Linked DNA regions of Homo sapiens. The protein of the gene in region 1 purifies or fractionates together with the protein of each later gene. This does not show direct contact. Each region holds a gene or a part of one and is shown on either strand. Other genes may lie near its edges.

The links. Proteins that work in one complex are often made in the same cells at the same time.
Region 2: the proteins of DENND11 (region 1) and CD226 purify together in Homo sapiens (co-immunoprecipitation; one large-scale study listed by IntAct). This does not show direct contact.

The regions. Positions count from the first base shown.
Region 1 is NC_000007.14:141,684,908-141,689,061, forward strand, and holds part of DENND11 (DENN domain-containing protein 11), read right to left. Parts: intron 1,752-4,154; coding exon 1,652-1,751; intron 730-1,651; coding exon 571-729; intron 1-570.
Region 2 is NC_000018.10:69,857,374-69,860,873, reverse strand, and holds part of CD226 (CD226 antigen isoform a precursor), read left to right. Parts: 3' UTR 1-3,500.

The DNA.
Region 1 (4,154 bases):
CTCATGCCTATAATCTCAGCTCTTTGGCAGGCTGAGGCAGGAGGATCACTTGACTGCAGGAGTTCAGGACCAGCCTGGGCAATATAGTAAGAGCCTGTCTCTACCAAAAAAAAAAAAAAAAAATATATATATATATATATATATATATATATTTTTAAGTTCTCTTTCTATTATCCCAATCATAGTAAGAATCCCAATAATAAAAGAAGTAGGCTTTAAGAAAGTTTAGGATTTCTTTGCCTACTTGGGGCAAGGAGGTAACTATTGCGGCTTTGCATAAACAAAGATCATGTACCTGTCAAAAAATGACTTAATTTTAAAAAGTGATGGTAGTATTAAATCCAAACTGAAGGCAGAATATACCCCAGCTTTCATTATAGAGTGAAGACTCATCATGCAGGACGTTGGCTGAAACGAAAGGACACCACCCGAGGCGTGAAACATCGCCATGGATGTTCTTGGAAAGACATCTGCTGCTCTGGCACGCAAATGCTGTCTCCGAGGGCTCGTGCCATATGCACCAGCTGGTGGATCCTGCTGCCTCCCTGCACATGTACGGAAGCCACGTACCGAACCTGGTTCTCCAAGAAGTGCATGTAGCGGTAAAGCAGTGTGTAGGAGGGAGAGAGGATGCCCACAGACTTCATCCGCGCGCCACGTTCCAGCTCGCTCTCCACGGGCATGTTGGCAAAGCAGGCCAGGCCGAAGAAGGGCCCCTTTCGGAAATAGCTAGAAGAGACCAAATACGTAGTGTGGCTCAAGATCAGAGAGGAATTTTGAGATGCAATCCTAAACAAAACAAATGAACTGTGTTCGGGGCTGTCAATGACAAAGCTCAGCCTCAAGAAAACAAGCGGGCCAAGCCACATGACCTCACTGATGAGCTTGAAGAGATTACATAACTTGCCAAGGGTCACTTGGCTGGAGCTGGGACTTAGTCCGTGGCAAGCCTGCCGCTCAGCTGCCCACAATCATGGACACATCTCTTCTCTCCTGCACCACGACTAATGACTTGGATGGGTGAAGCAGAACCAACATTCCTCTTCAGGCTCCTCTGGAACTTGGACTCTCTTTCGTAGCATAAACCACAGTGATTCTTCCCTTACTTCCTGAGGCTCTGATATTTTTCACTGAGCTGCCATTTTATTTCCTCCTCTTCTCACACTTGTATCAATCATGAATTAAGCCCCATGAGGAGATTAAAGCCACTTCATTACCCTTAAGCTCTTTCCATTGTTCCTTCTCGCAAAACTCTCTGAATGCCCCACTACACAGGACTAAAAAATGGCCTTACTTAAAGCTGAAATTTCAAGGTTGAACACATAGATATCCTCAGTTAACTCACACGGGGCTGAAACTGTGCACTTTCATTAAAACCAAACCTCAAGTGAGGTCCATGTAATTTCTGAGAAAGTGAGAGAACCTCTACAGGCAGGGATTCTTAAGATTTGCAGGTCATGAAGCCCATTGAGAATCTGATGAAAGCTAGACATCTCACTAGAAAAATGATGTAAACACAAAACTATCCATGTATTTTCAAGGCATTTACACACAGCACACGAAGACCTCCTAATAAGAGCCCTTCAGCTTTGGGGAAAGTGTGGAGGTGGGGGGAATGGTACGAAGATGACTCCAGTTCAGAAGTACTTACATGAAATCAGATTGGATTTTATGGGACCCACTGGCCATAGACTTGAACTCAACACCTTCAAGGTCAATATCTTGAGGTAAGCACCATTCTACCATGTTTCCTGCAGGAAAAGGAAGATGCAAGTTAAAAGAAACAACATCATTCAAAGAAAATGGGTTAGTACAGGGCTTAGCACACATGGCTTTTCAATAAACCGACTGCTGACTCAGCCTCAGACAGACCAGCGAGATGCTCAGAGCTCAGCCCCTCCATCACTGGCAGGGGTGACGCCGGAGGACGTGGAGGTGGACACTAAAAGAACCTCCCATTTCTGCCCTCAAACACTGTTCTCCTCCCTCATGAGGATGCTGCGTTTGCTTCTGTCATTCTGCTCAACCACTTCCAAATCTGCTTTTTGTAGCCTCACTTCTCTGCATGTTTTTTTAACCTTCCACCCTCATTTCCTTATCTTGTGTTCTCCCCTTAATCCCTTGAGATCTTGATTCTATCTATAGCCACTAATGACTGGGAAAAAATCCCAAAACATTTTTTAAATTCTCATTCTCGTTTACCTCTAGGTAGCATTTGCTAATTCCTCAAACATTTCTCCTCTTTTTCCTGGATTTTCATGATAGAATACTATTTTAGTGCTTTTCCTACCTCTCTGACCAATGTAACTCTGTTTCCCCTCCTCTCTCTCTCCTCTCTAAGTGAGGTCCTTCTTCAAGGGACAATGATATTTGCTTCCAGAATTTTGGGACTCATTCACTCATCATTGATTATTCAGTTTCTCCTGAGCTAGATGCTGGAGATACAAAGTCCCTGACCTCAGTGAGATTAGATTCCAGAGAGAAATGAGGAGAGCTAGAGGAGATCAGCAGTTACAGTGCAGTGGGATCAATGTTATGACAGAGGATAAGGTGCGATTTTTTTTTTTTTTTCTCGAGACTGAGTTTCACTTTGTCGCCCAGGCTGGAGTGCAGTGGCACAATCTCGGGTCACTGCAAGCTCCACCTCCCAGGTTCAAGGCGATTCTCCTGCCTCAGCCTCCCACGTAGCTGGGATTACAGGCGCATACCAGCACACTCGGCTAATTTTTTTTTTTTTTTTTTTTGAGACAGAGTCTTGCTCTTGTCACCCAGGCTGGAGTGCAGTGGCGCGATCTCGGCTCAATGCAAGCTCCGCCTCCCAGGTTCATGCCATTCTCCCGCCTCAGCCTCCCCAGTAGCTGGGACTACAGGCACCTGCCACCAGGCCCGGCTAATTTTTTGTATTTTTAGTGGAGACGGGGTTTCACCATGTTAGCCAGGATGGTCTCAATCTCCTGACCTTGTGATCCGCCCACCTCAGCCTCCCAAAGTGCTGGGATTACAGGCGTGAGCCACCGCACCCGGCCATGCCCAGCTATTTTTTTTGTATTTTTAGTAGAGATGGGGTTTCACCAAGTTGCCCAGGCTGGTCTTCAACTCCTGACCTCAGGTGATCCACCTGCCTCGGCCTCCCAAAGTGTTGGGATTACAGGTGTGAGCCACCGCTCTAGGCCAAAGTAGGATTTTAAAAGTACAAGCATGCCTCGGGCTGCGGGAATCAGGGAACTACACAATAGCAGTGTTATCTAGAGTCTTGAGAGAACACTATAGAATACTCCCTGTTGTTTTCATGCATATTCAAAAGGGTTTAAAGCAAAACACTAAGCTATTTGTGAGATTTCATTTCAGAACAAACTTCTTATTAACACTCCAAATCCTAATTTGCTAGGCATTAGAAAAACCATCAATGATCCCAGCCAAACAACGCTTTCAGATAATTGTTCAGGGCATCAGGGAATACACAATCTAGTCTCAGGACATGGTAGATATCATAGAGCATTGTCGAATCTCACACTCAACAGCCCAAGTCACTTTCAAATAGTTTATTTTCAAAAGAGGAATTATGATTCTGATCATTTAGTCAATTCACTAAAGTGAAAAGCATGAAAAAGGAATTAAGAGTTCATAAAGCAGAAAGCCTCGAACAATGTTATGTTTGTCAGGGTCAAAGATAAGAAAAAGCACTCAGAAAGAAAGAGGGGTGACCTTGGGGATAAGACGAGTTTTTTAAGCACCAAGTTCCCCCACGCTTTCCTATATTTTCCCCTACCATCCATGTCTATTACCTTCACAGTCCAGTCGTTTTTTTCCTGTGGAATGCATCAGGACAGCTAGGGAGCTTTAAAAGGTGCCAGGGGCTACCCTAGGTCTATAGAATCACCATCTTCCCTGCCCTGCCACAGGGTGATTCTGCTGATGCATGCCAGCAATAAGAGCCCCTGCTTGGGCCTCTGTATACACGCTCCTAACGCTTAACAGTGGCAGTATATGGTCAGCAGAGGAAAGGGACTGTCTGGGACAGAGCTACAATGACCCTCGATAGGCTCTGTCCTCCTCATACTCAACCAACCTGCTTCTTCTAATACTTACTGCCTTGTTTACCCACACGCCACACATTACGGGGTTCAGCTAGCTCAAATTTAGCTTCTTTCCTC
Region 2 (3,500 bases), on another chromosome or scaffold:
TTATAAAGTGTAAGTGGAGACGCTAAATTGTGAGTACAAAGTTTCTTTTTCACAACAGTGATAAGAAAATATCTTTAAAAAATATAAGACAATATAAACATGTCATCATTAGTTTAGCTACTATTAAAATGTAACATCTAGAAAGTACTGATCTCCACCTTCAGACTTCTGTATAAGTATATTTTTTCACTGATCTGTTCATTAGAGTTCTTCCAGCCAAGACTCTGGGCTCTTAAAACATGTATCTGAAAACTAAAAACAAGTTAATTTTTTTAAAAGCTTCTCTATTTCTAGTGATTCAATAGGTAGAAAAATAGCTTCTAGAATTAACTGCAATGCTTTCTAAGGAAATTTTATAAATCCTCAAGGTCGGTTTACACATATTTTTCCAGATTCAGAGCACTAACTATCTTGTAAGATGTAAGAAAAGGTCCATTTGGAAGTATGAGTAATAAATGTCTGGGATAATTCTGGTTTATTTCGTATTATCCTTGTTAGAATAAGTTATATGGTCAACCTGTTCAGAACACTTTTTCTAGTGTTAGTGTGTACTTTTGGATTTTTGGTTCTTGTAGGGTATAGAAATATTTTCCTTTGTCTTGTATTCTGTTGTTTTGAATGAATAAAACACAATGTTTCACGATCACTACTTTCATTTGCCATGGAGAAATAGCAGGGAAAAATTTCTACAGAATAAAATTAACTGATGAATTACATGCAGAAAAAATTCAAATCAATGATACATTGTAATTTTTATCTCAATGCAATGTTCTTTGTATTTTATTTTATTATTATTTTTTTGAGACGGAGTTTCACTTTTGTTGCCCGGGCTGGAGTGCAATGGCACAATCTCGGCTCACCACAACCTCTGCCTCCCGGATTCAAGTGATTCTCCTGCCTCAGCCTCCTGAATAGCTGGGATTACAGGCATATGCCAACATGCCTGGCTAATTTTGTATTTTTAGTGGAGACGGGGTTTCTCCACGTTGGTCAGACTTGTCTTGAACTCTGGACCTCAGGTGATCCACCTGCCTCAGCCTCCTAAATTGCTGGGATTACAGGCATGAGCGACCACTCCTGGCCTTGTTCTTTGTATTTTATAAGTGCATGTAGTGCAAAGGGTCAAAGGGCTTTACAGGTTTTTTGTTTGTTTGTTTTTGTTTTTCCCGAAACATAGTAGTCCCTTGCCCTTCCTCATTTTTGTTACCTTGAGACAACAAATTTTACTACTTCTAACTCATTATTTTATTTATGTTCACTTTTCTGAATAGCATGCTTATGACACTAATACTTTTTTTTTCAATTTTAGACATTCATTATTCATTTAGATGTCTTTCTCTCCCCAAACTCACCACATAAAATACTCTTCTCATGTCTCTTTCAGAAATATTTGTATTAAAATATGATTATATCAATATTTGGCATTTATTTCTTATGACCTTGCCAGTACTCTTAGTTAAACTACATGGTAAAAATGATTTTGCTTTCCCTCCTACATAACTTTTTTTCCACCTAGAGCTAATAATTGTCATTCTGGGGACTGACTTTTTCTGTATTTACCATAAATTGACCTGAAACTCCCCTGTGATGCAGCAGGAATTCTACCAACGTCAACTTCCTTAGAAAGACTCCATTAGAAGCTTGACTTGGGGCTAGAAGGAGAGGCACACAACTGCCATCCTGGTGTCTCCCTTCATCCAGAAAAAGGGGGAGGAATACATGAAACCTAGAATCCACTCTAAAACATTTTCCAGAACAAAAGGACATGTGTTTCCGTGTTGTAAATGTTTAACGAGTGCCCATAACAAGGAATAATAAGTCTATTATGTTTGCTTTTGTGTCTGTAAAAGTTGGGGGTATTGGTTGTAAGCACGAAAACAGATACTGACTGTTGAAGAAAAAAAAAAATACGAGGTCAGGAGTTTGAGACCAACTTGGCCAATATGGTGAAACCCTGTCTTAGTAAAAATAGAAAAATTAGCCAGGCCTGGTGGCACGCACCTGTAGTCCCAGCTACTTGGGAGGCTGAGGCAGAAGAATCGCTTGAACCCGGGAGGCAGAGGTTGCAGTGAGCCAAGATCGCACCACTGCACTCCACCCTGGGCAACAGAGCGAGACTCCGTCTCAAAAAAAAAAAAAAAAAAAAAAAAAAAAAGTTAAGTATTTGAACATAGGGGTGGCTCATAGAATTCCCAGGACACCCGATGGAGTAGGCTTGCAAAACACAACATGTGGCAACTCCAGTGGGAAACGAGGCAGGAAACACTCGTTTCCTGCAGAAAGCAACAATTTGGGCTTCGATACCCTCCCTAGAACACAGGGCAGTGAATCTGAGCAGCATCAGTACCCCACGTTCGGATGAGTCCTGAGCCCCTATTTTTATTCACTGACTTATTCCAAAATCAGTGTCTCTTAAATATATCTGGAAGGCAGCAGCTTGTATCTCCCCCTTCAGCTTCCATAGTGGCAGTCAGGGTACAACTTACTTTCCAAACAGAACACACTGCGACATTCCCTCCAGGCTCGTTGAAGAACTTCAACTGACAAATGTCCCTCCTCGACCAGATGATAGTTTTCTTAAAGGCAGGGTTTAATATACCCTTTTATAAATGTTTCAAGGCCCTGTGTAATACCTGAGTTTATTCCAGATGTAACTAAATATATCCAAGATTGTTTTAAAATAAATTGCTGAAAAAACAAATAAATACAGTTAGTATCTATATCAATATTCTCAGTTGGCAGTTTTGCAATAATGGCCGATAGTTCATTTTTAGTAACACTATTGACATTGCATTTGGATATTAGGGTTTACTAATCATCCGCATGTATACATTGCATATTTTTCTAGACTTTAACTTTATTCAAATCTATTGATTTTTAAACCTGCAACTTATGTCTAGACACAGGTATACCTTTACAAGAACTACCATTTTTTTTGGTAACATACTACCTCCAAAATTTCAAGTAAGAAGTTGATTTTTGTCCATTTTTAAATGGAAAACTTGTAATCAAAATGCCACAAAATTATACTGTGTATCATTTGACCTATAGAAACCAATATTATTACAGGAAGAAAGCAGAGCCAATCTTCTACCTGTGGTCAAATAAGTGGAGGCCCTTTCTAGACTAAGTTCTCATGAGTTTAAAATACCAAGCATAAGTTCTCCAAATTCCTGAAAAGGAAGCCTTGTGTTGTATTGCCCAGCCATATTTGTAAGACATAAAAATAAAACTTGAGAAGAAGCTATGATAACTTACTTTCTTCATTCTTCAAAATTTACATAATCTCAACTGATTTTATGTTTTTATGAAAATGCATTCTTAAGATATATCCTTATTCAATCATGTATTCATTACATCCTTTATGCCAGGTATCCAAAAGTACTTACAGTGACTAAGACCATTATTCTTTGATCAGCTGCCTGAGTAAGACTTTGAGCTCTCCAATATACTCTCAGTGATACTAAGTTTTCTGAGTAACAGCTTTGGATGTGGCTTCA